Linked DNA regions of Homo sapiens: region 2 is linked to region 1. Evidence: fine-mapped expression QTL. A gene starts in region 1. The other region holds a variant in brackets. All regions are shown on one strand. Distances are between the middles of the regions. Region 1 holds the start of PTPRR (protein tyrosine phosphatase receptor type R). Region 2 overlaps PTPRR (protein tyrosine phosphatase receptor type R).

The links. PIP is the estimated chance that this variant, and not a neighbour inherited with it, causes the effect.
Region 2: its variant is fine-mapped to the expression of PTPRR in lung (TOPMed, PIP above 0.99).

What each region holds. Positions count from the first base shown.
Region 1 is chr12:70,913,683-70,930,070 of GRCh38, forward strand. It overlaps PTPRR (protein tyrosine phosphatase receptor type R), which reads right to left and starts at 7,056. Exons shown (of 14, transcript NM_002849.4): 1 at 6,651-7,056. The coding sequence starts at 6,708.
Region 2 is chr12:70,690,463-70,706,850 of GRCh38, forward strand. PTPRR (protein tyrosine phosphatase receptor type R) reads right to left here. Exons shown (of 14, transcript NM_002849.4): 7 at 10,675-10,861; 8 at 7,803-7,887. Among named protein-coding and RNA genes, the nearest start is that of PTPRB, 61 kb to the left of the region's middle. The variant C/T (reference allele first, on the strand shown) is at 8,695.

The DNA of each region.
Region 1 (16,388 bases):
TTTACATAGAAAATTTTCTGTCCCATCTCCATTTCCTTGTTGTCAATAAGTGTAAATTGCACTAAGGTGGCAGTAGTAAAGTCAATTACCTTCTTTATGGTCATGAAGATGAGATATAATCTCTTGGTCAATGTAAATTAATTTATCACAATTCATTTTAACAAATATATTTAATATATGTATTCATTCATTGAACACTTACTGATGCCATATTAGGTAACAAGCATAGTTCTAGGGAATAAGTATATAGAAATAAAGCTGCAATTGTGTTATTGTTCTCAAAAAACTTCAGTATACAGGTTAAGTACATTGACAGGGGAATATACAGGATTGAAAAGGGAAATGTAGGAGAGCTACTTGAATGAGGTGAGTCATCCAAAAAAAAGAAGATTCTCAAAGTGGGCTATGCCTGATCAACATTTGAAGTTGGAGAAAGAGTCATCTAAAAAAAGGAGCAGAGTATTGGTATTTAAGAGAAATAGAACAGTATGTGAAATGATTCAAGACATGGCAAACCAAAGGAAATTTTGTCTTAGTGTGATATTAGTGTGCAAAGGAGGGCAAGATGAGAAGACCTCATCGCAAAAGACTGCCTTCCTAATGAGTTTGGAGTTTATTCTAAAAGAAAAGGAGATAGCTGTATTAAAGAATTTTTTGGAGAAAGAATATGATCAGGTATGCTTTTAAGAGTTTCACCTCCGACATTATTATAAAGAATAAATTTGATAGGAGGTCATCACAAGATATTATGTGAGAAATAAGGATCTGTCTCAAGGCAGTGACATGATCATGGAGAGTGGAGAACATCTTATGAGAAGAGTTTGAAACCTTTAAGATGAAAGTAGCAAAGGGATGATCTAGGATCAATTATTTGTTTCAGACCTGGGTCATTGTGAAGAATCCTGGTGTTATTCACAATGTTAGGGAATATTTATCAGAGTAATTGTGTTGAGAAGTGTTGAGTAAAAATAGTTGTATATAAGATTATTGTGGGGCCAGGTACTGTGGCTCACACCTGTAATCCCAGCACTCTCTGAGGTTGAGGCAGGAGGACTGCTTGAGCCCAGGAGGTCGAGGCTGCAGGGAGCCATGATTGCACCACTGCACTCAAGCTTGGGCAACAGAGTGAGGCCCTGTCTCTAACAACAACAACAGCAACAACAACAACAACAAAAACAAAAAGATTACTATGGAATATACAATGACTTCTAGGTAATTTTAAATATAGAACCAGAGTTCAGGGGAGATAACTGAGATGGAAATGTGGATTTTGGAATCTTTGACGTGCAAGTCTGAGTATAATTATCCAGGGAGATTGTATACAGAGAAAAATAACAAAAAATCAATGACAAGCTGTAGAGAGCACTAACCATTAAATAATACACAGCAGAAGACCTAAAAGTACAAATTGAGAAATGGCTGGAGAAATAAGAGGGAAGCTAGGAAGTAATGACTGTCTGTGGAAGTCAAGTGAGGAAAAATTTTAAAATTCAGAAAGGGGTCAAAATATATAAGTACTATAGAAATGCATTGATAACAAGAACATACATTACAATAACCTCTTTAATTATGTTCAACCATAGGATGATAGGATGAGGACGGAAGCTGATAGAGAAGTAGGTGAGAAATAAAGAAGAAAAGGCTGAATGTGCATAATGCATCCCAGAATTTTTACAAGGTGTTAGGTAGGATGTGATTTTCAATGGAATATGTGAGGTGCTATTCTATTGGAGGTGCTAGAAATATGTCATCTCCAATATACATATTCCTGTGTCTCTTAAGTACCAAAGAAGCAAATCAGTTTTTTCTAGTGTATTAGACTCTCTGTTTGTAAATCAGCTGATCCCTGTAGCCATTCCTACATGTACAAGGCATTTCACTGAGAAGTGAAAATGTAGCCAATCAGCAAAGAATTTGGGCTGCACAATATCTGGCAATCAGTTTGAAAGACTTTTTTCACTGAGTTGATTAGTAGTTCTGGTCTAACACAAACCCATCCTTTATTGCCCTTCAGTTCACAATGACAGCAAAATCTGTTAGAGATAGTGTGTTTTGGGGGCATGTGAGGCAACATGAGTTTTGGACAAATGAGCTGTTTAAGTCCATTCCAGAAGTGGCTAAGTGGACTATGTGTGTTTTTTGTGGGTGTTAAGAAGATATTAAATGCAAAAAGAAGAGACCAGAAATATCACTGTATTACATTATTTATTTAACTTATTTATTTAATCTTTAGAAAGATTTTATGTCAGGAACTGCCCCCAGGTACTAGGTAGCCCAAGACCTCTAATACATGCAATAATAAACAAAACAGGCAAAAATATGTGCCCTAAATGGGCTTACATTTTAATACAGAGAGGGGAAACTACAATAAAAAAAGTAAAATATATTGTATGTTGGGTGGTGAAGACCTCTGGGGAAAGAAAAGTTAGGCAGGGAAAGGGTGCTAGAATTTTTATCTGGGTGATGGGGGGAAGGGAAAATGAAATATGAAATAGAATAACCTCATTAACAAGGTAATATTTAATTAAAGTTCTAAAATTATTGTGGGATTAAGCTGTGGAGACACCTGGAGAAAGAAAAAAGCAAAACAGTATGAAAGGGTGAGTGCCTGGCATCTTCTAGAAACAGAAGGATAAATATGGCTGGAGAGAGGTAAAAAAAGAAGAAAGTAGTGAGAGATAATATCATAGAAATAATGTGGAGAGAGACTCTAGACCATTGTAAGGTCTATATTGAGTGATTTTCAATAGGAAAAACAAATTCTGGAGTTCTAAGGAACATCTTAAAATCTTAAAATATATCATTTACCTGTTAGTCTATCGTTTCTTTTGAGGGTGGTACTTCTGCAAATCATCTCCCAGATCTTCTTGGCACCATCATAGAATACCTTTCTTCTCAGAGACTAGAGAAATTGACTATGCACTTCTCTGAGAGATTTTCAATAGGAAAAACAAATTCTGGAGTTCTAAGGAACATCTTAAAATCTTAAAATATATCATTTACCTGTTAGTCTATCCTTTCTTTTGAGGGTGGTACTTCTGCAAATCACCTCCCAGATCTTCTTGGTACTATCATAGAATACCTTTCTTCTTAGAGTCTAAGGAAATTGACTATGCACTTCTCTGAGAGTGAAGAGATAGTTTCAGGAGATACATTGAAGGCAGTCTTTGTGCCATTCAAAAAGGCTGATAGCAAGAACAACACAGAAATTTGAAAGAACCTTTTCCAGAACTCAAAGAGAAAGCAATGGATTGAAATCAGTTTCTGTATTTTGTTAGCAAAACATTCCCTAGGAAAAAGAAAGCTTTCACATGAGAATTTTTAATATATCTCAAAAATGTACTCTTTTGCAACTAAAATACAACACTATAAATAATATCTCCTCAAATGGAATATGCTTCTTTGGACAAAGGAAGAGGAGAAATGCTGAAGAAAATAAGCTCTGTGGATCTTCCACATAATATTTTTTTACCATTCGTATTATTGTGGTGGCTTTTAATTGCCTCCTTGAATATTCCTGAAGTGGTATTTTCAACTGGAGTTTATATATTAAACTGGTTCACGAAAGAGTAAAGAATAAGGACAGTTAGGTAAAAAGTATTTTGCACCACTAACTTAATCAATGGTGGCCTCACCTATTGTAGAACCAGTGTATAATTTTATATAGTATGCAACCACGGGTCTGGAAACCTGGGCTTTTATCCCGACTATGCTATTAACTACCACTTTAATACTCTAGATCTTCATTTTCTCACCTGTAAAATAAGCAGTTGGATGGACAATAACCACAACTTCCTTGTTAGGTGATCTATAAAAATCGGCTGCCATGGGTAGAGTAGTGTCCAGCTTCTCTAACAAGAACCATGCTTAGTAATCCTTTAGTGTTAATTTACCCAGAGATGCCACTTACACAGCATGGTACCCACTCCTCATTTTTCTCCCACAGCTATTATAGACCACAGTACTTCTCCCTAGCCAGAATGCGAGTCATAATCTTCTTTTTCCCCCCGATGGTGTCTTAGGCAACCATAAGCAAAATAATGGGAGATGGCACTCAAGTTGCAAGCAGTTTGCTACTTATCATTACAGGCATGGTTATATTGAAGGCAACAGTTCCTAATATAGCTAAAAAGAACACTTACATCCCGTTAGCACATTCCTCCCATCTCTAAAGCATTATAAGGTGTCATCAGTTCCACCAGCATAAAGCAGTTGCTGATACCCTGGGCGTAACCAAAATGGATCAATTAGCTTTACAGTTAAAGAGGCCTGAATGTATAGAATTCATTTCCCTTCTTTATGAAGTCAGCCTCTGTTCTGAGAGAAAAGTCTTCCATAAAAGTAACAAACTCACACCTTCAACAAGTAGAGATTAATATCTTGATTTCTTGATCTTTGTCATCCCATCCACTTATTTTCTTAATCTCCAAATGTATAGAAGCTTAGACCAAGGAGCTGTGTTTGTTTTAGTTCTGATGAAAAGCCCTAACAATGTTATTAGATAACTGTGATAAATTTTAATCTGATGACAGCTTGTGACCCACAAATTGCTGTTTAAAATTAAAATGCATTTAAAATGAAATTGGCAAGAGAACTATAATATTAAACTTACAATCTGCTGTGATAAAACACCAATGTATTTTACTATATTAAATATGAATACAATGAATAGTATCTTGCAATTGAAATATAAAAATGTCCTTAAATGCATTTTCTTATTAAATTAAAATTGGTTGATTAATCTTACTTTTTATCTTTGTTTTGCAAATTAAAAAGTTGAAGTAGAGATGGATTGGATTGGCTTTGGTAATATACCCTTTGGCAGAACTCCAGGTAAAATCTAGGGCTACAGGCTTCTAGGTTTCTCATCTGATGAGCAAAAGTCCTCATTTTTCTCATCCCGAATATTCATCTACAGTAAATCAAGACATGTTTTTCACATGCTTCAGTTTATTTATAACTTTTAAGATATAATTACTCAAGATGTATCAAATGTGATCTTTAAACTTTTTTATATGTTAGTTTTGAAAAAATGACTACACTGATATTGTTGGCAGACCAGCTAAATCATTGCTACCTTAGTAAGAATTGAGATTTTTCTGTAATGAATGTTTGTGTCAGTCTATTATTAAGCAATACTATAAATAAAACTCAACCCAATGTGTATGTTTTCATCCCACATTTCAGCATTGAAGAATTGTATGTGGTAACGAAATAATTCACTACAGCTGTTTGCAAATAATTTAATAATCAAGTCATAGCTATTTTCTACTTCTCAAAATGTGCCAAAGAACTATTGAAAACTCCACAATATAACATCATAATTATAACAATTAACATGTGTATTTAATAATAGCTTTAATAATCCTATGCATTATTTGCTCAAAAGATTCATGATACATTTAAATAATAGCGTTAGCTGGAATAAGAAAGTACCATATTTCACTCCTACTATTGTACACAGAGAATAAAATTCACCCACTCTTTTAAAAAAGATACTGCAAGGATTGTAATTTCAGAACAATTATTTTTACTCATTACCCCTAGAACATAGTATACACTCAGCAAATGTTGCTTGAAGGAATGAATGGATATGTGTGATTGGATGAGAAGCACACTCAGGGAAAATGCCTCGTCTCTGGTTGTTACAGGACTACTGCATGGACAACTGCTGTCACAGTAGGGTTTCTAAAATCTCCCTGCCATATTTTATTTTGGTTCATGTGTGTGTGACAATGATAAGGAATTCAGCCTAGCAAGTCTGTCTGCATTAAATAGAGGTGCTATGTATGCAAAAAGCAGGGACACCACATATAATATCTCTCAGGTACTTCCCAAGGTTTGCTTCCTCACGAGACTTGATATTGATTCTGGTGCCTCAAATCTATTTATATTTGGGAGCAGTCTCACTGTTACTCTTGGTTACACCTTATCAAATCTGTCCGAGGGACAGTGCCTAACCCAGGGTTGTCAGCTTTGGAACTGTAATTGTTTTTTTTTTTTTTTTTTTTTTTTTTTTTTTTAATATGCCAGCGGACGCTAGCCACGGTGCTGAAAGAGACAAGAGGATTCTATTTGAAACCTTTTCTTCCTCTTATTGGCTTAGAAAATTCGAGTGACAAGAGCAGGGGCCAAAGGAGCCTGGTGCAGCATCACTAATGTGAACCATGTATTTCGATCTTTTGGGCGGAGATGTGGTCCATCAGGTTACAGCCAATGCCTTCCTATGAGCGCTCGCTAGACCAAGAGACCTTATGAATGTAGTAGCCGCTGCAGTAGAAAAGGTTACATCTAGCAGGATGTCTTATCCCTCTCCTGAAAAATTGACAGTTAAGTGCATAGCCTAGAAACAAGAGCAGGGAATCTAGACGGAGGGGAGGCGAAGGGGGGAGCAAACCTGTATTCATATTGAAAATGTTCACTATTTTCGTATAAAGTAAAGAAAAATCAAGAGCTAATTTTAGGTTAAGTTTTCGGCCTCAGTTTTCCAACAGGTGCACGACTCCCTCACCCCTTCCCTGTCAGGTACTGTCCTGTTTTACCTTTTTAGAAAGGCTTTCTTCGCAAGGCAAGCTTTTCCTAGAGTCCTTAAGCATGTGCAGTTTCCCATCTCATGCACAGCTCCGGCTCTAAGCCTGGCAACCCCTTACCTGCAGCGTGAAGATTAAGGAGCAGGCACAGCGCAGGGAAGCAGACTGCTCTCCGCATAGTGTTTGCATTGAGAGGTGGAGGAGAAACTCCACCACGACCCCACTTCAGGTAAAGTGCTATTAGAAAGAGCCACCGCCAAGGGTCTTCTAGTCTCCGGGATTCAGGTCCTCGGCTGGGGTTTGCAGAGCAGTCAGTCTGTGGCGCCGACAGAAACCAGCACCAGCTTCAACCTCCCTAAGAGAGGGAGAGAGGAAGAGCAGTAGGAGGTTGCGGGTAAGGGGAACAGAAGCGCTCAGAGGCGGCAAATGCCTGGCCTTCTGGACGCCCAGAAGCCAAGGCGGAGACGGCAGGGTGGACTCCGCGCCAGCCCAGCAGCCCAGCAGCAGCGCCGCGGCTACTGAGCATGCCCAGCGCCGGCCCTCACGAGGCAAGGGAATTTCAAAGTGAAATTCCGCTTCTCCGGGTCTTAGCGGCGGCTTGGAGCAGAGTAGGCTCCATCGCTGGGGTGGTGGTTGGGGGTGGGGGTGGGGGTGGGGAAGGGGGAAGTGCGGGGGAGACACTTGCTGTGGTTACTAGGGACCCAGCGTCCATCACAAATCCGAAGGTGGGGTGTAGCTGAGTGAGAGTAGATGGGGGCACGACCACAGGAGTCAGAGGAGGGAGCTGATGACATTGTCAACCATGCCACCCACCCTACTCTTTCCCCAAATCTTGATTTACACGTGGACCGAGCTCACTGCTGGGAATTGGCATTTGCAGATTGACCAGCTTCCCAGGACTCGCCTACAGGAATAGAGGTGTCTTCCACTGCTGAGCATTCTGGCTGCTCGGGGGAAGCGTTCCCAAGGCAGCTTGCTTGGTGTAAGCAGTAACCATGTATCTTGGGGGTGACTTCGTCCTTCCTACAGCTTCCCCCTCTTTGCTTCTCTTTCCACTCTTTCCAGCTCAATGACTGTATTTAAACTTTCTTCTGACTCAAGTCCTCACAGTGACAGAAAGAAGTGAGAAGATACTTTTAGACTAGTAGAATATATCCATGTAATTGAAGCACAAGAAGGCACCTTTTTGTTTCGTGGAGGTAATTAACTTTAGTTTCCCTTTTACTCTTTAAGGTGAAAGATAATGGATCACGTCAGTGCCTGGACTCATCCGGCCCAGCTCTGTGTCTCTAGGGAGGCTACCACAGTCTGCCATTAGATGGTTTTTTATCCCTCCATCTAAGTCTTTGGAGTGTGGAAAGCCTTATTAGTCATGGCTAATTGCTGCTAGTCAAGTCAAGAAGTCCCTCAGCTAGACTTCTCTTTTAACTATCCCAGGGCCTCTGCCCTTTCTGCCTCTGTGTCTTTATGGACACTGTTGCCTCTTTCCCATTTTCCTCCACTTGCACCACCACCACACTAGTTTTCGAAGGTGTAATGTTGGTCTCACTTTTCCAGAAAGCCCTAACTCTAACTAACTCTAGATTACAGTGATCTTTCTCTTCCACAACACTTGTTTAGCCGTGCCTCATATTATTCTTTCAGACAGTTCATTTATCTGTGGTTTGTTCTACAGCACATTGAAGTCTCCATAAGAACTGCTGAGTTTTGTATTCCATTAACTTGAATAAAGTTGTCCTAGCCAAATAATTGGGGCTAACAAGTGCCCATTGAGTTGAGCTGCACATCTCATTCAGTGCTTTCTTTCTCCATCCTCTGTGAATTGAGACAACTAATGGGAAATAGGCTATCCACCAGAGCTTAAATTAGGTGGGACCTTATAAGATCAGAGAGCCCAGGCGGTACCATTTATTTCTTTTATGATTTATGTCATCTTCAGCTCTGAGAGACAAGGCCAGGAAGCACTCCAACAAGTGGGAGAAGGGGACAATGAGATGTACTTTTAATATCTTGACAGGCCTTCTCTGCTGAAAATAGAGACATATCTCCATGTCTAGCCCCTCTCTAGCAACGTGCTCCACCCCCTACTCCCCCATGCGTGTGGCACACTCCATTTCTGTGGCACTATCATTTCATCCCAAACCACTCTAAGCTGCAACCTCTTCTCCTATTCCTGATTCACTGTCCTCCAGTTTGCTTTTCCCGTATCACTTTCTAACAAACCAAAATAATTACTTATAAAATCTATTGTTTAGTATCTATTTCCCTACTCCCCCCCGCAAAACAGAATTTGAGCTCCAATGTTGAAGAACTTTGATGACTTTATTGATATGTCCCAACTCCCTAGAGCAATGCCTCATGCAAAATAGATACTCAAAAATGAATAAATGAAAATGATAGTTGACAAAGTTCAATACTGACAATTAACTCTTTGAAATTCTTACTGAGTCAACCTTTGAGATAATTTATTTAGCATTCTGTAAAGCTTAGAAGAATAACTCTTCTCATCTAACATCTGTTACTAGAAATGCTGCAGGGCTGGAGGTTAGGGAAAAATAATTGTATCCCACTTACAATAGGTCTATTTTTCTTATTTTCTTGTTTCCTAAAATAACTAATTATCAAACTTACATAGATCTCCAAGAATAAAATATACTTACTTATGGTAATGAAACAATGCTGCAGTAATGTTCTGAACCCCTTCCTTTTCCACAGATAATTCCAACATTTATTGGTGGGGCATTTAAAATTCCCATTATTATAATTGACTATGACTTTGCCAAAAAGCATCCTGCTGGCAATGTATTTTGTTCAGGGCTGCAGGTAGCTGAATTGTTAAACTATGCATGAAAATTCCGTTAGCAGCAAAAATTTCCAATTTCCAATTTGGCTGGATATATCATTAGAATAGTTAGTTCAGCATGGTAAAAATAACCCTGAGTGGGCTGTAATTTTGGTGACTAGACATTCATTATTAATTTACTTAGAAATGATAAAGTAACGAAAAAGGTCATATTCCTATGTGAGTCAATCTAATATCATACTTGTAACGGCTTCAATTCACTTTTTCACTAATTGGCTAATTCACTCATTGCTGTTCGTGAAGTCAAACAGCAATGAATGAATTAGCCAATTAGTGAAAAAGTCAACCACTTAACTCATACAGAAATATTCTGAGTCGATAGGTGCTGTTTTTCCTTAACTGTGATCTAATGCTAGTGAAGGTGACTTGGTGTTTTGGAAAAAAAGCTTGGTTAAAACACTGCATCAGGGTTTTAAAAAGTTAGCTGTAATTCAAAGAAGCATGGAAATTACTATGAGAGAACTATACAAATTAGTAGTGGCCTACAGAGCTATGTCATAAAAGAATCATTTACATTTTACAAGATAAATAAAAAATATCATATGGAATTTTCCTCCACATAAGATGCATAATTTCTTTTTCTTATGAGGTGAGTCTTAGAGAAAATTTATGCAAGAAAGAAGCTTTTCAGAGCCTGCCTTCAAAACAGATTTAATCATTATGAGCATCCATATTTACTTCTCTATAAATGGATGAAAATTATTCATGTCAGCCATCTTTCCTTAAGACACTTTAAATTGAGAAATCAGATCCATTGATTATAAGGATCTCCTACTTAAGTTATTTAGATTACTATTATTTAAGTATAATTATGGCTAACATTGACTGTGCTTCCTGTGTGCCAGGTTCTATTCTAAGCATTTGGATGTCCTATTTAAACATTATAATATTTCTACAAAAGGATACTATAATGATCTCATTTTAGAGATAATATAGTTGAGGCATGGAGAAGTAACTTGCCCAAAATCAAGTAGTAAGTAATCAGTTAAAAAGTAAATTGATAGAATTAAGATGTACATCTGATAATTTGATACCAAACCACTATATTATACTACCTCTAATAACACACACACACACACACACACACAGACACACACACACTCAGTTGTAGGTTGCTCACTAGAATTAGATGATTAGATCAGGGCTGGGCATGAGATGCCTGGCCCCACAGTAAAGCTCTGTGTTGAGGAACACTCATAGAAGACTGTCTCCAGGAGAACAAGAGACACTGCTTGTGGCAGTGGACTCTGGGCCCTAGCATCTAGTGAACAAAGACAGCAAGTAAAATCATGCTTAGAGGAACTGTGTTAGAAAGATGCTTAAGATAGAATGGAGAAGAATGGAGGAAATGATTTCTTCTATGGAGGGTGGGAGCAGAGGAGGGGATGGGCAGCAGGCAAGAAACTGGTGGGCAACAGGAAACGAACTGAGTCTGGCTGGATAAGTAGGTTCTAACTGCTCTACATGAAGAGAAAGGCCAGGGAATTGTGTGAGCCAGTGGCAGAGATATAAAGCAGCAAAATGGATTCAAGGAACTTCTGAACATGTAAGGGAGCAATAGGTAACAGTTATAAACACCTCACTAAGATTTGTTCTGTGCTTGCCCTTTCCCATCCTTTATGCAGCCACTTTATCAATCCCAAAGTCTGTTTCCTTTTGTCTGAGAGCTATCTTTTATAAGAGGAGAAAAGAAGAAAAATAATTTCTTTTTACAAAGTAAATAATTGATGTGAATTAAGCTATATTCAGAGTGGAATATAGCTCAGGATGAAAAGGAATGAATTCAAAATTCACAGATGAAAATACCATGTTCAGGTATATAAATTCACCATTATTATTTTTTAGTATTTTCCCAACCATAACAAGAAGAATGATCTACCCTTTCTCATAAGCATACAGTGAAGAGAACAATGAAATTGCAAGGGGCAATAAGAATAGGGGAGGAAAAGCACTAAAATTCTAAAAATATATATTATCACATTGAAGTCTCACAAGAGCTGTGTGAAGTATTATTTTTTTTTTTTTTTTGTAGTAGAGGAGAAAACTGAAGCTCAGCGAAGCTAGTAATTTGCCTATAGCCATCCAGTTGGTAAGTGGTGAAGCTGGGATTAGAACTCAGGTATGGTGACCCCTAGCACTATGCTGTTATCAGCTGTATTGTACAACATCCCTGCTTAATGACCGAACTTATTTTAATACTTAAATTGAAAACAGTGTTCTTATCCCAAGACACAGACTTCAAGATGGATAACAACAATTACATTTTATAACTTAACACAGTTGTAGTTTTGTTAAATTAAAGCATTTGATACACACACACAAAGGCAGCAATATGTATCCTAAGGAAAAAAATTAGGTACCTAAAACAAGGCAGATATACTTTTCTGTGCATATGTGAATTATGCTATTGTAGTAAAACATAAAATATGAAAAGCAGAAAGGCTATATGTACCTATAGATTCTGCTATTGGTTCATCATTAAAATTTTATTCAAAACGAAGAACAAAGTTTTCTTGGAGCTAGCCCTTGGTACCAATGTATTGTATTGTCATCTATTCTGGCACTGCAAAGGTCAGATTCATCCAAGATGTCAGTAATAGATTTATTTACAAACCTCTGACTCTCCTGCTTTAGCTCTCTGTTTATCCCAAGACACTAATCAGGCTGCACTTATATTATCCATCATCCTGAGCAGCACACAGATGTGACAGCCCTCTGTTATGGCTTAGACTATCTACTTTGAGCATTCAAATACATTTTCTGCAATGGTTGGCCATTCTTTTAGATTTCCTTGAATGAGGCCACTTTGGAACAACTTGTTCACACAATAGCCTGGGACACTAAGTATATCCTGGGATTGTAACTGTGGGTTGATTAGATCATTTAATCTTGCTCTCATTTCTCTACATTATTTTCTCACATAATTACAAGATGATTTAAAAGGACATCTCCCAAATATAGGCCTTAATGTCTCCCTCACTGACTCTTCATTCTTTTTTTTTTTGCATATATATATATCTTTATTATGCCTTAAGTTCTAGGGTACATGTGCACAACGTGCAGGTTTGTTACATATGTATACATGTGCCATGTTGGTGTGCTGCACCCATTAACTCGTCATTTACATTAGGTATATCTCCAATGCTATCCCTCCCTGCTCCCCCTGCCCCACAACAGGCCCCGGTGTTGACTTTTCATTCTTTAAAACTAAAAGTTTAAGGCCGGGCACGGTAGCTCACACCTGTAATCCCAGCACTTTGGGAGGCCAAGGCAGGCAGATCACCTGAGGTCAGGAGTCCAAAACCTGCCCTGGCCTGGCCAACATGGTGAAACCTCGTTTCTATGAAAATTCAAAAATTAGCCAGGCATGATGGTGGATGCCTGTAATCCCAGCTACTCGGGAGGCTGAGGTGGCAGAATCCCTTGAACCTATGAGGTGGAGGTTGCAGTGAGTTGAGATAGCATCATTGAATTCCAGCCTGAGCAACAGAGCAAGACTCCATCTCAAAATAATAATAATAATAATAATAATAATAATAATAATAATATTGAATAAAAGTTTAAACTTTTTAAAAATACTTATTTCTTTCACTCATTCTTGCTGCTGGATGCCTATAATAGAGAATGGGGTGGTTTATTAGTCTATAGTTCGTGGTTGCAAAGCATTTCAGAAGAAATTTTTTTTTCTTGTTAGACACCTGCACCTCTATAACATGAAGAGTTAATCTTACTAAAAATGTCCATTGACTATAACACAACCACTAATACACCCAGACAATGAAGCAGTTGTTTACGGTTTTAAGTTCGACTCATTCATCAGAAACCATATGTGATAGGGCAACACGGGTGCCTATGTTCAGTGAAGTCAAGTCATTTGAAGTCACATTACGGTAGGATATACTATATCGCATACATTCCAAAAACAGTGGAATCATCTGCCGACATTTCGTTGGTATGTTGCTTGATTTCAAATAATTAAACTATATATTGAGTACCTATGATGCATCAGGAAGTATATTAAGTACTTGGGATATATTGTTGAACAAAATAGACTAACATTTTTGCTTTAGCTTAAATTGTAAGTGAAATGTACCTTTAATAGTAAATATAAGAAATAAGTAAATTATATAGTATGATGGAAATTGATGACTGCTATGAGAAACAGAAAAAGTAGATCTAAGTAAGGGGAATTAGGCAGGTGGGGGTGGGGTGGGAGAAGAATATGAGTGCAAGGATTTTGCAGAATTAAGTAGGGTCTTTAAGTGGAGAAAGCGAGCATTGAGAAAGACTTGGAAGTTGAAATTAGCTGAGCAGAAACCTGGTTAAAGAACTTCCTAGGCCGAGGGAATAGCTACAGCAAAGACTCTCATGATTCCATAGATATCTTAACCAATCTGAAAAAAAAACCCCACAGTATCAGAAATAATTTTCAGCATATCTGTAAATATATAAAATATATAAAGAGAAATCCAGTTGGCAAATTGCCAAATTAGTTTAAATGAATATTTTTACACCAGAGATTTTCATTGATTCATGTTTCACTGATTTCAAATACAACTGTGAGATAGCAAAGCCGTTAACAAGATTCAGAAATTGGGACTACCCAAAGCCAACTGATGTACCAACTAAGAATTCTGCTCTTTATTCCATGTTTTTGGTGTAAAATAAACACCTTATTGATTTAGAAATGTGGGTGCCTATTTTGATATTTTATTCATTTTGAGAAACAAAGAAAAACTTTGTGAGCTGCCCTTATACTAAAACCACTAGCAAAAAGTCAAGCTAACATAATATGAATGAGAAATATAAGCAGGAAATGAGACCGGGCGCGGTGGCTCACACCTGTAATCCCAGCGCTTTGGGAGGCAGAGGCGGATGGATCACCTGAGGTCAGGAGTTTGAGACCAGGCTAGCTAACAGGGTGAAACCGTCTCTACTAAAAATACAAAAATTAGCCGGGTGTGGTGGCACATGCCTATAATCCCAGCTACCTGGGAGGCTGAGGCAGGAGAATCGCTTGAATCCAGGAGGCAGAGGTTGCAGTGAGCTGAGATCATACCACTGCACTCCAGCCTTGGTGACAGAGTGAGATTCTGTCTTAAAAAAAAAAAAAAAAAAGAAAAGAAAAAAAATATAAGCAGGAAAAGAATGAGAAAAATGCCCTAGCAAGCATTTTTGTTTTCTCAGCCTCCTGTGTGGCAAATGACATCAGAATATTTGGGTTAGTTATTGTCCAAATGCTGGAGGAAAACAGTTTGACAAATTCCTTGTTTCTTAGGATGGCTTAAGCAAATCATTTTGATACTTTATTATTTTTGGATGAAATAGAAGGTAGCTTCATTTTATTTTTAAGTAAAATTCCTTTTTTATTCAATTTAATGTGATAGGTGCCCATCAAAATACTACCTTACTGTGGCCGGGCGCGGTGGCTCACGCGTGTAATCCCAGCACTTTGGGAGGCCGAGGTGGGAGGATCACGAGGTCAGGAGATCAAGACCATCCTAGCTAACATGGTGAAACCCCATCTGTACTAAAAAAAAATACAAAAAAAAATTAGCCGGGCATGGTGGTGGGCGCCTGTAGTCCTAGCTACTTCGGAGGCTGAGGCAGGAGAATGGGGTGAACCCGGGAGGCGGAGGTTGCAGTGAGCCAAGATCGCGCCACTGCACTCCAGCCCGGGTGACAGAGCGAGACTCCATCTTAAAAACAAAACAAAAACAAACAAACAAAAAAACAAAAAAAACTACCTTACTGTTAATAGAAATAGAAAATATAAACCATTTCTCTTACAAAGGTGTCATTTGGAACCTCTAATCTTGGAAGTACTTTACTTTAGGAAAGATATCTACCCTCAAATTTGTCTTCCAAACTTAAACTAAAATCATATTTTATATTAGGTTTGTATCATAGAGATTAGAAAATGAATTCCTTTCAAAACCAAATTCAGCTCCAAAACTGGAAATAAAATGAAATTTTATTTGAATCAGTCATAAACATAATATATAGAAGCCCAATTTTACCTCACTATTTCTAGAAAGTAGGCAAAAACCAGGATGGTATTTCTGCAGTTTTCCTTCATCTAAATTAATTCTCTTCAGACTGAAATTGAACATTCTAAAGTACAAAATTTTGTAATATTGTGTCTATTGCACAATAGACAATAGAGAAAAAACAAAATAGAATGTGATCTATGGATTCTACCAACTGGTGACAAATACAGCTAATGCTTTGGCATAGCTGGTTTTCCTCTACCCTCATCTTGGGGATATGTGTGTCTTTGCATGCATGTACCTATAATTATTGTTAGTTTTAACATTATTTTTACATCATTGGGATCATGCTATGAATTTGGAAACTATTTCTTTACCTAATAATACTGTGAGACATAATTCCATGTCATTTAAGTTTGTTCACAATCATATTTTTAATTGTTGCAGAGCATCGTGCCATAGCATTCTATCATTGGCTTATTTTTTCAAGCCCTTCCTCAATTAAGGTGAATTGCTTCAGGAGAGCAAGGAAAGACATTCAGATAATGCTCACTTACTGTACAAAATAATGAAAATTATTATATATTTATAATATATTTCCAACATGGCAGTTCTAATCTGGCTCTGGTGAAACTATCACCCCATTAAAAGAAATTATCTAAAGTGTCAAAGCCAGGCATCAAGAAGGGGACATCAGGGATTCTGAGTCATACCTCAATCCCCGGCAAATTAAGGATAATCTAAATGTGTGCCTTCCAATCAGGAACCTGCCTATTTTAAGAATGATGGCTAAAAGCAGAGTTTGAATAAGGAGTCTTCATTTATCTTTTTCATGATCCCTGGATAACTCAATTGACTAACACTGATATAATTACAAAAATACCATTGTGTAAAAAGTACTATAACATGAATTGTATAAAAAAGAGTTATAAGTAATTGTGCTATTTCTTTTATTTTTAAAATTTGTTTATCTTTGCTTCTCATCTTTTTAACTTATTTTTTATT
Region 2 (16,388 bases), 220 kb before region 1:
TAACGTTTTAGCAACATAACAAAAGGTAATCATCATTTTAGTCTAAAACTAAGCCCTCAGGCCCCATAACATTGCCATTAGAATGCACGCAGTGATTAGTTCAGTCTGGATAGCCCTAAATTGCTTATTGCACTGATTTCCTTTCTTCTGACCTACAACAAACACATGGCCTGGACAGAAGTCTTTTTCACTATTTGGAAGAAGCTGTCTTTAGTTAGCATATGTAGCGGTTTGTTCACTGACAGCACAAGTATCTGATATTGGTTAGATTCGTTTAGTGCTAGCAACATTGTCTTAAATTCTAAAATCACTTTCCATCAAGAGTTGAAAGACTCTTTGTGGACTAAAGTGTTACGGAAAATGTGGAAATTATTTTTACCATCATTTGCATACATTAATATTACTAATTCGTCTCTTTATGATTTCTTTGACCTGGTACACTCTGAGCTTTTTGAAGGCAGGGATGGGGATTTTTCACCATCTTTATAAGATCTAATGTCTTGCATAGCAGACCTTCAGTGAATGTCTACTGCACTGATTTAAAGATCTCTTCTATTTTTTAAAAAAAGGTCAGTTCTATATATCCTTCTCTAGCAATTATTCTATTGCTTTTCTTTTTTAGACAGGCAAACTTCTGAAAGAGTTTATTATACACACACTTCCTCCATGCTCATCTGCAACTCAATCCTCCTCATGTACACTGTGATCTATCCTAACCCTAGCACTGTGCAGAGACTGCCCTTGCTAAGGTCACCACTGACCCTCTTGTTGTTAAGCCCAGTGATCCCATTGTGGTATTTTTGTTCATGTCCTCTCTGAAGCATTCAAAAACTGTTGACTGTATATCCTTTTTTCGAGTTTTCTCTTCCCTTAGATTCTGGGACACAACGTTCTGGTTTTCCTGCTCCCTTTTCGGTGGCCTCTTTCCAATCTCCTGCTCATTTAATCTGCCCCTTTTCATGTTGCTAATTCTAGGATTCAACTTGACCCTCTTTTATCCTCACTTGATACTGCCTTGTTGAGTGACTCATTCATTCCTGTGACTTTATTACGCACATCCTGAGGGCTCTCAAATACATACTTCAGACCAGCCCGGTCTCCTCATTTATAGTCCAGCTTTTTCTATTTATTATTTCCTTCTGAATGGACCACAGGTTTGTGAAACTCCTCATGCCCTTCATGTGTTCCTGACAGCTTTCTGCTATTGTTTAGGTTAGGTGTGCTGCCACAGCTCTACAGTCCGTGTAGAGTTTCTGTGCATTTGAATGTTAGCATATTCTGCCTGTTCTGTCTCCTAAAATACGCTGGGGTCTGTCTTGCCTCTCTGTTTGCATGGCTGTCTTCTTGGACTAGGACTCAAGTATCTCCTGGTCTCCCTGCCTTCAATCTTGCTTTTTTCCAATCCATCCTCCTCATAGCTGTCAAGGTGCTCTGTAAAACAAAATCTGATCACATGATTCCATTGTCTAAATGTCATCCATACTTCCCAATTGCCCATAGCAGTATTTCCCAAAATATTTATTACCTGTAAATCATTACCTCTATAACATATAGAATTATACTATATGACTTATAAATTAAGTCATCTTTTACAAAAAGAGGTTAGTACCCAAATAAATATGGGAAACATTGGGTTAAACAAATCTGAACCATATTCTTTTTACTGCAGGACTTCTCAGGGTCTTCAGTATGTTAATGGACCCTGTGAATTTCCAAGAAGGTATTGTATATAATCCTATTTGTCCGTTGGACTCAATTTTATTATACCTACTGTATTTACATACTTAACTATTATATTTATATACTTATTGATAATTCAGTTTAGAGCAGCCCTGATCAATAGAATTTTCTGAGGTGATGAAAATATTATCTATCTGTGCTGTCCAAAAAATGTAGCCTCTAGCTTTCAAGCACTTGAAATGTGGCTAGTAAAAACTGAGAAACTAAAGTTTTAATTTTATTTAATTTTAATTCATTTAAGTGTAAACTGACCTAGCCATAAGTGGGTTCTGGTTGCTCTACTTGACAGTGCAGGCCTAGAAGATGAATGCCAAGAGGGGTACTTAGCAAGATAGAGCAGATCCTTAATGATCATCCCAAGGCCTCACCAACAGCTGCTTTCCCACGTGTATCATATAATCTAGCCCCATGGACCTAGGGCAATCTCCCAAATGTTCTATGTTTTTGCAGATTTTATGCTTTTGCACATATTGTTTCCTTTGCCTTCTCTGCATGGTAAAGTCTTCCTCATTACTCAGGGCTCAATTCAGAAAATACTGTCTTTCTGAAGTTCTCCCTGACCTTCCCAGGCAGAATTAGGCATTCTCTTCTTTGCTTGGGTCCCCTGAGTTTTATTTTAGTATTTATCATCTTGTATTTTAAGTGCTTAAATTTCTGCCTGCCCTCAATGGAGTGTGGTGAGCCCCTAGAGGGCAAAGGCTGTATTTAATTCACTTTTGTATCCTTTGTGATTTCTATTTGGGATGTGGCTCACAGAGGGTTTAATGTCAGAATTAATTTCTATGAGAAAGAGTTAAAGCCCTGTTTTTGACTTTCTAGATATTTTTTTCTTTTCTTAGCAAAGAGGACAAGAAATCTTTCATGCCTTTCAGTATCCACTGATTGTTAGAAGTTTCCATAAACATCCTACACCATTCAGGCTTGAAAAGAGGCCTGCTTCCTTCAGTTTTTATAATGCCTATGATGTATATGATTTACTGGTAAAGCTAAAAACTGCTTAGAAACAGTTTCCCTGTAAAGCTAAATTATGTTGGTAATTAGTAACTTACAGTATTTTCCAAGTATTTAGAAGTTTCCAAATCCTTTTTATTAAAAATTCAGAGAGGGGAGTCTCACTTTGTTGCCCAGGCTGAATTGCAGTGGCTACTCCCAGATGTGATCACAGCTCACTGCGACCTCAACCTCCCGGGCTCAAGTGATCCTCCTGCCTCAGCCTCCCAAGTAGCTGGGACCACACATGTGCACCACCATGCCTGGCTACATTTTGTATTTTTTGGTAGAGATGAGGTTTTGCCATGTTGCCCAGGCTAGTAATTAAACTTTTTTTGTGTGTGTGGAAATGGGGTCTTATTATATTGCCCAGGCTGGTCTCAAACTCCAGGACATGAGCCACTGTGTGTGGCTCCAACTACTTCCTTTTACAAATGCAAGAATACAACATATAACTGAGTATGGGGAAATGTAGGTTTCCAAGAAAAACTCTTGTAATATATAGCTTGTACTAAAAAAAAAAGCCAAGAATTAAACAAAAAATGTATAATCATCATCGTTTTCATCACTACTGTTATAAATGAATGAAAATGGGGCTCTTGAGTACTTTGCTTTTAAAACTGTAAACTTCTCTATACATAGATGGTACCCCTATTTCCTGGAATTGGTTCTGAGGTTAGAAATGGATTCATCTTCAGTTAGATAGGGAGGGAAAGAGAAACTAACATTAGCTGAGGGCTTACTATTAGTTGGAACTTTGACAGACATTTTACACATACTATCATTTAATTTTCTCGGTAGCCTTGTAGGAGAGTATTGTTATCACTACTTTTGGGAATAAAGGATGGCATAGGGAGATTAAATATCCTGCCAAAAATTATAAATGTTTTTGTTGGGGTAGGAAATCAAATCTAATTCCAGTATCTTGCTTTAGCTACATAACTTGTTGCTTTAATGAGTGGTTCACTTATTTGCATATCTACTCTGTGCTAGGTACTTTATATAATAAAAAAGGAAACATAATTTAAGTAGGAAACATTATTAGATGTTAAAATTTTAAATATAAAATGATGACCTGAGTAAATGGCATTCTTTAAGTGTATCTATATTATCTTATATTTGTATCAACACACTGCATAAAAGAAATATGCATACAATTTATTATTATAGTGCAGCACTATTCACAATAACAAAGACATGGAAACAACCTAGATGCCCATCAACAGTGGATTGGATAAAGAAAATGTGGTACACATACACCATGGAACACCATGAAGTCATAAAAAAGAACAAAATCATGTCCTTTGCAGCAACATGGATGCAGCTGGAGGCCATTATTCTAAGCAAATTAACACAGGAACAGAAAACCAAATATTGCATGTTCTCACTTATAAGTGAGAGCTAAATTCTGGATACACATAGACATAAAGATGAAAACAATAGTAACTGGGACTCCAAAAAAAGGGAGGGAGGGAAAGGGAGAAGGGCTGAAAATCTTCCTATTGGGTACTATGTTCACTCTCTGGGTGTCATGCCGTCAGAAGAAGCCCAAACGGCAGCATCACACAATATACCCTTGTAACAAACCTGCACAGGTACCCCCTGAATCTAAAGTAAAAATAAAAAATTTAAACTTATTATTACAGTATTTTATTGTGTGCTAATAATTTTCTATTGATGTATGATTATTATTACAGTATTATATTTTATTGTCTGCTAATAATTTTCTATTGATGTATGATTGTTTTTTCCTACTACTTTTGTGATTTAGGATGTAGACATATTTTTATCACTAATATTTGTTTACACTGCAAAATAATTTGATATAAACTTGACTTTAGCATTTTAATCTCAGCCAAGATAACACTGTCATTAGAGAAATGACTATAATTTAATTTATAATTATAAATTGATTTATTCATAATTGATTCTTGCCTATCCATATATCTGTTGCAAGGCATTCTCAGAATTGTATAATGTTGCTATTATGTACAAGCTGTCAAGCTTTTAGAACTAAGAAGAGTTTAGTGTAGGTTAAAACTAAAAACAATCATAATGTTTAAATTCTTGATCATTTAATAATCATCATTTTATGTAATATTTCAAGTTTATCTCATATTACAGTCTAAAACCATAAAGAACATCTTTGTGTATTCATTCCAGGCTTTTTGGATGCTTTCACCCAATAGTGTGGCTTTTCTAAGCTATATTTCCTAAATTATATTTTGTGCAACAGAGGGTGGTGGGTGGGGCATTCAGCCTGCAGACATTTTCAACAGAAAATCCATCATTTGCAACATCAGCTGTCAGCACAGGTGCCCTGAATCCAGCGGTCCACCCAGTTCTGTGAACGGAAAAACTGACACAGGACTATGAAGCAGTTGTCTGATATCATCTGGGCAGGAAATGGAGAAGGCTGAACTTTGAACTAATGCTAATAATTTCCAAATCCTTCTAAAATTAGATGATGGTTTGGGTATATATAATTGTGATGGAGGTATATTCCCTTATTACTTATGTTTGGTATATTTTAGATAAAAATTTAACAGAGAGAGAGAGAGGGAGAGAGAAAACACAAATTCTAACACGCAGCACTTTCATCCCCTTTGGCCAAGTATAGTCATAAAATAACCTTCAATGGTGACTCTACCTTAGGTAAATAAATTTAACTATATAGAGCAGTTAAAAATATGTTATAGTTTAACAATGTATTTCCAATTCCACCAGAAGGGGAAGGCCAAAGATAGTATTAACAGTAATTGTTTAATTACTTTATTACATCACCATTACTATGAATATAAAGAATTTGGTGTCTTATGAATGAATTAATGAACTAAATTATGAAGATTGCTATTTCAATGTCAAAAGTTAAAAAGACTTTGTGGCTCCATCTTTCCTGAGCTTTGTCGTGAGATGTTTACTGATTTTGCCAAAACTCCAACTATATCTGTTTGTTTAGTCATAGAAAATATTACTTCCTCTCCATTTTTTTTTTTTTGCCTAATTTCTCTGGACAGAATTAATTACTCAGTCCTCTCTGAACTCCTACACTGCTTGGGCAGTATCTTTATTCTGGCCTATGCACTGAGCATAATTACCATTTATATGACTCTCGTTTCTAGTCTGTGACCTCCTTGATTTTATAGACTGTTTCTTATTTCTTACTGGTCCCTGGCATTCAGGTCATTGCTTGACGTTAATAAATTCCATGAAGCTCAATCTAGTTTCACATATAGTAGTGGTTCTCAAAGTGGATCCTGGTTTCATCTGGATTGGAATCACCTAGGTGTTTGCTAAAAGTAGTTTTCTGTGCTCAACAGCAGATCTACTTAAACAAAATCCCTGGGGTTGGGCACAGGACTAACAAGGACTCCAGGTCATTGTCATGCACAGCAACATTTTTTTGGTAATAGTTTTATTGAGAAATAATTCACATTCCATACAATCCCCCCATTTCATGTGCCATCACAGCATTTTTTTTTAAATTTTCACAGAGCTGTGCAACAATCACTGTAAATCAATTTTATAACATTCAATTAGCCCCAAAATAAATACAGGTCCTTTAGCAGTCATTCTCCATATCCCCTAATGCTAAGCAACCACTAAGATATTTTCTGTCTGTATAGATTTAGCTATCTGGACATTTCATATAAATGGACTACAAAATATGAGGTCTTTTGTGCCTGGCTTCTTTCACTTAGCATGATGTTTTCAAGGTTCATTCAAGGTTCATCAGTGCCTTGTTCCTTTTTATTGATTCTATTGTGTGACTATACTACATTTTATCTATCCATTTCTCAGCTGATGGTTGCCACTCTTTGGCTATTATGAATAATGCTGTTATAAATATTTTTGTATCATTTTTGTGTGAACACATTTCATTTCTTTTAGGTAATATTTACCTAGAAGTAGAGTGTCCAGGTCATATAGCAACTCAGTTTTATCTTTTAAGGAACTGCCAAACTGTTTTCCTAAGTAGCTGTAGCTGTACTTAAAACTGTAGTGTTAAGTTTCCAATTCTCTACATCCTTGCCAGCATTTTTTATTGTCTATTTTTAAAATTATAGTTATCCTCATGGATATAAAGTACTATCTTGCTGTAGTTTTGATTTCACTGATGGCTAGTGATGTTAAACATCTTTTAATATGCTTGTTGGTCATTTGTACATCTTCTAGGGAGAAATATCCATTGAAATCTTTTGTCCATTTTTTGGGTTGTTTGTGTTTCTATTATTGAGTTGTAAGATTTGCGTATTGTAGCTACATGTCCCTTATTAGATACATGATTTGCAAATATTTATTTTCTTCCATTCTATGAGTTGTCTTTTCACTTCCTTGAAGGTATCCTTTGAAGCACAAAATTTTTAGTATTAATGAAGTTCAATTTTTTTTTGCTGCTGTTTGTGCTTTTGTTGGCTTATCTAAGAAACCACTGACTAATTCAAGGTCATAAAGATTTACAGCTGTTTTCGTTTATGAGTTTTGTAGTTCTAGCTCTTATGTGTAGGTCTCTGGTCCATTTTGAGTCAATTTTTGTCTTCAACTTCATTTTTTTGCATGTGGATATCTGGTTGTTTCTGCTCCATTTGTTGAAAAGACTCTCTTTTTCCCATTGAATTGTTTGACCCTTGACAAAAATCAGGTAGCCATAATGTGTGGCACAACAAAATTTTAGAATATGTGTCTATTGGAATTGTGACCTGGACATTATAATAAGAGTAAAAAGGTAAAATCATTAACTTCAGATAGTTTTAATGATTATTAGTCTTGACATGTGTTTGTAATTCCAAATTTGATATGAAGTGGGTGTTGTAAGAATTGGAAATGCTGAGGTAAGGGTTAATGGGAAGACTTGTCTTGTGCTTTACAATGTAAATTATTATTATTATTTATACTTTAAGTTCTGGGATACATGTGCAGAATGTGCAGGTTTGTTACATAGGTATACATGTGCCATTGTGGTTTGCTTTTGCTGCATCCATCAACCCATCATCTACATTAGGTATTTCTCCTAATGGCTATCCCTCCCCTTGCCCCCCATACAATGCAAATTATAAAATCAAGAAGCTTACTTGGTAAAATGGTCTTATAGCGATTTTTAGTTCCATGACGCGGAATATCAATTTCTTTGGGATCCACAAAGTTCATTGGTATTTCCTGCAAAAATAAATAATATCAAATTAGTGTATCTAATACTGCCACAAAGAAAATCTTCACAGGGGGGCATCTGATCCAGAGTTCTATTGGACTTCAAAGCCACTTAAAAACAACAGATCTAGCACCTCTGGTGGACCAACACCCTTCCTTTCCTAAACATATCAGCTGCATCCGGACAAGCTGACTTCTAAGAAACAGCTCTGTGTGTTAGAAAATATTGCTTAATATGTAGTCAGTAAGGAGACATATAACACTGGTTAGATTTTAAGAATCCTGCTGTGACATAATTGCTAGAAAGATTAGACAGATGCTAAAAAGTGAATTTTTTTAAAAAACAATGTATTCAAATATATTCCAGTTTTTACATAACTTTAGTACCAAAAATTTTACTATAATAGATTATCTTTTCACACTAATAGTGACTCTTTTAGGATTATTAAAACCTCTTTCCCAAAATGGTAAATATAAAGGGCTTTTTTGTTAATTCAAGTGATGACATGACTTTTTTTTGAATTAAGAAATGGTTTATAACTGGACTGTTCCATTTTAAGTTATAAATGCACTGTTTTTAGTGAAGGGCATTCAAACACTGTTTCTCCCACTTAAGAACATTACTATTCTTATTTTATCAGAGTATACATTATATGCCTCAAGTGATTGGACAGGGAACAATAGGAAAAGAGTGGCTGTATGTAAGTGCATTAGATCTAAAAAGGTGTGTATCTGTAGCTAACCAGGACAAATAAAGCAACAAGCCAAAGTTTTCAAAAGGGTCCAAACAAACATTTGTTTAAAGATTTGATTATA[C/T]AAAATAGTATGTTCTCTAACTTTGATAAGATTAACATGAACAAAATAACTTTTATGTTATTTAATGACTGATAAACATTAAATATTTGATCAAATAAGATATTTTTACTACTTAAACTTTCTCCAGTAGAAAATTTAACTTAACAGTCTAATATTGATTGAAATAGAAGAAATCATCTTTAAATTCATTCAAATTATCCTAGTTTTCAGTCATTCTGAAAATTTGAGAAAAGCTGGACTATACTATGAATTTGAGGCTTGTTCTACAGAGAGAAACAGCTATTCGTTTATTAATTAATTTATTTTTAGAGATGGGATCTCACTCTGTCACCTAGGTCAGTGTGCAGTGGCACAATCATAGCTCACTGTAACCTCAAACTCCTGGGCTCAAGGCATCCTCCCATCTCAGCTTCCTGAGTAGCTGGGATTACAAGCATGAGCCACAACACCTGGCCCCAAGTTACTTATTTTTAAAATAATTTTTCCTTTACCTGCATTATGCTAGCTATCCATGATATTTATCCCTATTCTCTGCTCCAACTAAATGTTTTAACCTGTTTGTTCCAAGTTATAAAAATAAGCAAAATTGTTGAATATTCAATGGAAAACACATGTTCATGTTTGGTAATTTCAAGCACGTCAGTGTCTTTGGGCAAAGCCACAAAGGTAATATCTTTATTCCTCCCCTTCTTCCTTCTCACCTTCTGTTTTCTGACACACACTGACAGTCTGTCATCTTCCAGCATTCTCTTTCTCCTGTGTACTCCTTCTGGCCTTCAATTTCCTTTCAGGAAAGTGGGCTATGGTAAGGTCTTATTTCATAAACAAAGAGCTGTCTGCAGTTCTAGAAAAAAAAAGCTCTAGGTGTGCCTTTGGCTAGCTGTGTGACCACTGACTTGTTCTTTCATTCCTACAGGTCTCATTTTCTTCACATGTAAAATATGATACACCACAGAGTCTGATTTTCATGTTTGTATTTTACTTTGGACACTTAATAATAGTTGATGGGGCTAATAGTAGATCCAACCCATTGCTGAATCTGTCACCATTAGGATGGCTGCAAATGCCTGAACTAATAATCAATTTATTGTACTCAACCAATACGGCTTAAGATGCAAGAGGTGATCAACAAAGTCAATATTCTCCTTGGGCAACAATTAGACCTAAGAAGGTTTAATCTTACTTCATGTTCTCTGAGTTGATGTATGTTATCATGCTTTAAGCTTTCACTAGCAACACTGGTATGTCTAAAACTGAATTCATCATTCTTTTTAGCCCACACTTGGTCTTCCTCCTGTGTTCCTTATTTCGTTAAAGGGCACCATATGCACCCTGTTGGCCAAACCAAAAACACGAATATCAATCCCTGACTTTTCCATTACTTTTGGCTGCCTCATTCAATTAATCCCACTTCTTGTAGATTCCTACAGATTCTTTCCATTTTCCCTTCTACTATATTAGTTTAGGCCACCAACGCAGTTCCACAGGATTAACACTAGAGCCTCTAAACTGCTCCCTTTTAGTGCCTACTCCACTGCAAATAGAATGATCTATCCAAAACATAAGATAAAGTCCAAGCTCCTAAACATATATTAAGGCTAGGGTTTCTTTTATACTTCTGAGGCTCAACTTTTGCCACTTCCCACCTTGATTTCAATGTTCCAGTTAAACTGAACAGTTTAATTCCCCAGACAGTGACAGCAAGGCTATTCTTTGTCCTGGAATGCCCCTTCTCTGCCCAGCTCCCTATACCACTTATTTGCCTCACCAATTCTTGCATATTCTGCCTTAATTTAGCTCTACATTCCAATTTTAATACTTATCAATAGTGGATGAGACTGAGTGAATCTAAAACCATTTCACTTTGCCATTTGTTTACTGTAGACTGCTTAAGTATAGGACAGTATCATTTCCATACGTCTCTAGTGCCCCATGTATCAAAATACCGACTGAAGAGTGAACAATAAATAGAAGGCTCACCATGAATTCACTTTGGAGTAAATGTGAACTTGCCACGACGTCCCTCAGCTGAGACCTTGTGAGAATTCGGCTGGCTGACTGCAGATACTCCATTGCTACCTTCTCCCGTGGTGTTGGTATAGACACAAAGGGTTCAATGTTCCCCAAGCTACTCATGTCCAATGTAAGAGATACGTTGGACCCTCTTCTACATTGGAGAAGAATGTTATGTTTAAACACCACATACTTATTTTGATTGCAAAAACTTGTCTTTCTGTACATGCACACAATTCAGTGAGAACTTTTACAGAAATAACAACCAACTATATTTTCTCTTTTAGTATCATGGTTGGCCATAGCAACTACCCATAGTTCCTTCACAGGAAAATAACAATTTTGTTGTTGGAAAGAACTCTAAATTGAGAAAATATGCTATAATTTATGAATGCATATACTTATTACAGAAATCATAGGTTGGCTAATAATATTAAGTGAAAAATTAAGTAAAAAAAAATTAGGAAAAGCTATATCTATATCTATATCTTCTGAGTGAATCCCTAAAAAATGGCTTCTGGGGCCAGATGAGGTAGTTCATGACTGCAATCCCAGCACTTTGGGAGGCTGAGGTGGGTGGATTGCCTGAGTTCAGGAGTTCAAGACCAACCTGGGCAACATGGTAAAACCCTGTCTCTACAAAACATACAAAAAGTAGCTGGATGTGGTGACCCACACTTGTAGTCTCAGCTACTAGGGAGGCTGAGGTGAGAGAATCATTTGAGCCCGGGGGGTTGAGGCTGCAGTGAGCCGTGATGGTGCCACTGTACTCCAGCCTGGGCAGCAGAGAGAGACCTTGGCTCTAAAATAAATAAATAAAACAATAGATAAAAATAAAAAAAGATGGCTTCTGTATCCTCTATTTATGTGTATATGTATGCACGCATATGTGAATTGACACACGAATTCATTTAATTTTGTGGTAAACTTATAAGGGGCCATAGAAATCACAGACCCTTAAAATGAGTTACAATTTATCTTCCTCTCATAATTCCCCTTTTCCCGCTGGGGGGCAAGGGGATGCTCTTACAACTTACACAGACCCTGAGTCCTGAGTAGGAAGTGAGGATGCCTTTTACAAGTAATATTAGCTGTGTGGACCAAGGGGTAACTATGAAATAGCATGTGAGAGACTGAGGATTGAAGTCAGAGATGGTGTTTACAAAAACTGTTACATTTAAAGGGGCCGTAGGTGTGTGTCAGATCAAATATAGTGCCAAGCAGTTGGCGGCTCAAGGAAGTAGAGAGCAGGGAAAAACAGGCCAAAATATGTGAGAGTAAAGACAGTAAGAGTAGATGCTAGGCCCAGCAAATTATTCCCTCTGGTATTTTAATACTTACTCTGGAATGCGACATTAAGAAATATTACAGTGGCTTGAGCTTAATTTCAAACAGTGGAAAATTATTGGAATATACAACAACAACAACAAAATCCATTAACGAAAATCTATCAGTTTTCTTCTCTGATGAATCTGCCTCTGGTTGCATTTTTGTTGTCATTCTATAATTTGATATGTAATGTCATTTTTGTTAATTTCTAAATGGTTTGTAATTGAGATTTTAATTTCTACTTTAATTTGATGGATATCTGTAAGTTTAGACATTTATTTTCCTTATAATTTCTAGTTATAGTTGTGGAAATTAGAGAATGGCTGGCCTTTTAATGGTTGAAACTACTTGATTTTTTTTCGAGATAAACACTACATCATTTTCTAAATATTTCACAGATGTTTTGCTGGCATCTAGTTTGATTATCTGTATATGTTCATAAGTATCTATCTGCACATATATACATATATATCACCTTATTTATTATACCATTATTTTATTGAAGATATTACTTTATTCCAACCTATTCTTTCCTTCCTTTTTTTTTTTCTACTGGATTTGTCAAAGCCTGAGATATGTATGTGAGTCTTCCACAATAATTATGCTTGTTATTTTTCCTTCTAACAGTTTTTACCTTGTACATTGCAGCCATTGTGTTATTTGAAGGGATTTAGTCATATCTTCACTATAAATGTTACCAATATTACTTTCTTTCCTGTTAATTTTATATTTGCCCTCACATCTGGCTTTAAAAAATGAATATTGATATGCCTATATGTTTTGGGGGGTATGTTTCTGAAAACTTTTTCTCATCCTATTATTCTTCTTAACTCTTTTGGATCACTGGGTTAGGGATTAGGGAATAGCATTTATTCTAGATGCTCATAAAATCCTGCCTACCTAATAGAGGGATATTTTTCCCACTCCACTTTTTCTTATTTGGTTTTTGGTGGTGGTTGATAGGGTTCCTGTGCTTCTGAGTAGGAGGCAAATAGTTGAAGAAGAGCAAAGAATGGTTCTACTCATGGACCAAGAATTTAATCTATTTTTAGTGGGAAAGTAGTTTTTAAAGTTTTTCAGTTCAGTTCTGGACTTCAAATTGATAGAAAATCCTTACGGATTCTGATAATAGTTTGCCGATTGGTCTTAATATTTAGGGCATTTGTGAGAATTCAGCTTTTGCAAGCTTTATAGATATTTTAGTATGAAGGTGAGAGAGGCCGCTTAAGGGATGGCTAGTCCTATGCCCTTTAAAATCACCATGCCATTCAGTCAAATTTTCAGCCTCAAGAGACAAAATTGTCTGCCCTCTGTCAATGGAGTGATGCTTGTGCTATAGATGGTGAGATCTCTTCCATCTGGAGTGGTCAGAGCAGATTCATGAGGTAGAAGTCATTTAAGTTGGGCTTTGAAAGCAAACGTTTAATAGGTGAGTTTTTGGTCTAGAGTTAAAGAATCTGGTAGGAAAAAAAGTGTAGGAGAATAAATTAATACAACTTTGAAGAACAGCATAGAAGCAGTTTGAGCTAGAGTTCTCTTGTATAAAAATGTATTTTGAAATTGGGGAGCAGGCTTATGTAAGAGAGATGAGAGAGAAGCAACAGTCATAGACACTATAAGACTATAAAAAGCCCAAAAATAGTCCAGGGATGTTGGCTGACATCTGTAATCCCAGCACTTTGGGAGACTGAGGCAGGAGGATCACTTGAGGCCAGGAGTTTGAGACTGGCTTGGGCAACATAGCAAGACCCTGTCTCTACAAAAAATAAAATAGCTAAGTGTTGTGGTGCTTGCCTGTAGTCTCAGCTATTCGGGAGGATGAGGCCGGAAGATTGCTTGAGCCCAGGAGTTCGAGGCTGCAGTGAGGTAAGATTGCACCACTGTCGTACTCCAGGTTGGGTGACAGAGTGAGACCCCATGTCAAAAATAAATAAATAAATAAATACATAAATAACGAAAAAAAAAGCCAGATAAAAGAGGATCCAGAACATCATCAGGGTGTATTAATTTCTGTTTTGACTTCCCACAGTATACGCTGCCTAAACCTGGGAGATTAGAAGCCTTTGACATCCCGTGTCTAAGGTCTATTTGATTTAATGAGTTAATTTTCTAAGGATTCTGTGGTAAGCAGAGAGCTGTGGAAGCATTTTCATGCTAACTGACTTAAATAATAACCATTTATATATTACAGTCAGAAAGACATTTCAAAAACAAGATAAACATATAAACTTATGGGAAAATTCTAATTAAGACGTATAAAAAAATTGACAGAATTTAGAAAAAAAATCAACATAAATAATAGGAGAACTATACCTTTAATAAAAAAGGAATGTGGAAAGCAAGAAAACGAACTCTACTGAAAGCTTTACTTTTATTTTGTCTTGGAACTGTGGGCAAACTGTTTAGCCTTTTTAATGCCTCATGATTGCTGTTGGACAAAAGGGAACATAATAAAAAGCTTTATCAAGCTCCTGCTGCAGCACCAATTATTATTTATGCCAAAAAATAAATAAGAGGGAGGAAATTCAAAAGATACCAATGCAAACAATTGAAGGAAAAAGCAAATTCTTAGGGAAAGGTAAAAGGAATGCAATAAACAGCATGCTAATTATAATTAACTAAAAAGGAAAATATGTATAAATATTATGGGCCAGGGCGACACATCCATTTCAGCAAGAGAATATAAACAACTTTGGGTCAAAATTGTTCAATTCTAATGACATCAGTTTCTAATGACTTAGAGGTGGGAAGAAAACGTAGCTAAAAATACAGTAACATTACAACTGAGTGTTGGAATAACTCAGAAACCAGGCATTTATTTTCCCGGTAGTTGGGGACCATAATGCTAGATTTTAGAAGCTGAATTTAGGAAGAAAGGGCTAAAATTTCTAGTATCATGTCTACGGGCTCTAATTCTCAGACATGCTACTTTTTTTGCAGTACTTTGGTCACTGAGAACAGTGAGACTTCAAGCAGTATACCTCATTTAGCAACCAATAAAGAATGGAAATGGAAGAGGACAAAATGAAACAGATGATCATTTTTTCTTGTAGTCCCGGAAGATGTACTTTTGAAACTGTTGGATTATGAAATTAAGTTTCAGTGGGAAATGGTGGCAGCTGCTTATCTTGAAATACTTGAAATGAGAACGGAAAAATATGGATTTTAAAGATTATAAGAAGAATTTAGTACAGAATGAAAGCAAACAGATTTGACTTCCGAGATTTTTTTTTTTGGTTCTGTGAAAAGTATATATAATTTGTCTGGAGTTGTCTTCATTAGTGTACACGTCAAATCTTATGTGGTGAGAAGCAAGAACTTTAATGTTGATGTTGTCTTCAGAACTGAAAATGTGATCTTGAATCCTTTAGTCCAACTATTCATCCTTGTGTGTTACAGTGGCCATGAATCTGACAATCTTGGCTTGATCATAAAAGGTGACCTTAAACCCTCTCACCCACAACTTATTTAATTTTGCACATACAATTTTTCTACATAGTTTTCTAGAATAACTCTACTTAAACAGAATGAAAAAGGAAAAAAAAAACAAGTTTTTGCTCATTTGAATAACAAAGGAGACAAAAGTGGAGAAATGGAGAGATGGAATTCTTTTACTTTGTGTGGACTGAGTGGCATAGGCAGTTTTTGCAACTCCCAATTCTATGACTTTTAAGTTCCGAGGTTAATGGCATTTAATAATGTTATGCTGTTTCCATCTCTTTATCTTCCAGTAAATTATACATAGTACCAACCCTCTTTCTGGATCACTTGAAAGATGATAGGATAAAACAGAAATAAACACGGACCACTAGGAAAGTTAAATTGTGACATAAATGGAGTGTTACCAATTTCGAGAACTGAAATAAATGAGTAGGTATTGTGACCATTCATAATAAAATTTCCCAAAGGAAATCCTGAAGGGAAGAAATAATAATAAATATAAAAGATGCCAGGCATGAACCCAGGAAGATGATATATGAATTTCACCCTAAAGTAAAAAGAAAATCTTTTAACATAGAGAACATTTTTAGTGTAGGAAATGATCCATTTTCCTACCTGAAAGGACCTACACCTCACTAGGTAGAATGTTGCTATGCCTTTTGATTGAATCTATAAAAGTTTTGAATTCATAAAAAGATGTCTGACCTTTTATATGTGTATAGGACAAGGCAAAATTTACTACACCCTTATTTTACAAAAAAAATTCAAAACAATCATTTAAAAGAACCAGATACATTGAACTTGTCACATTACTCTTGAAATATTGACCTTGGAAAATGCGTTCAATCATTGTTCTGCATTTCGCTTAAGCAACTTGGACCTTAGACTGCATAATCTGCAAATGGGAATAA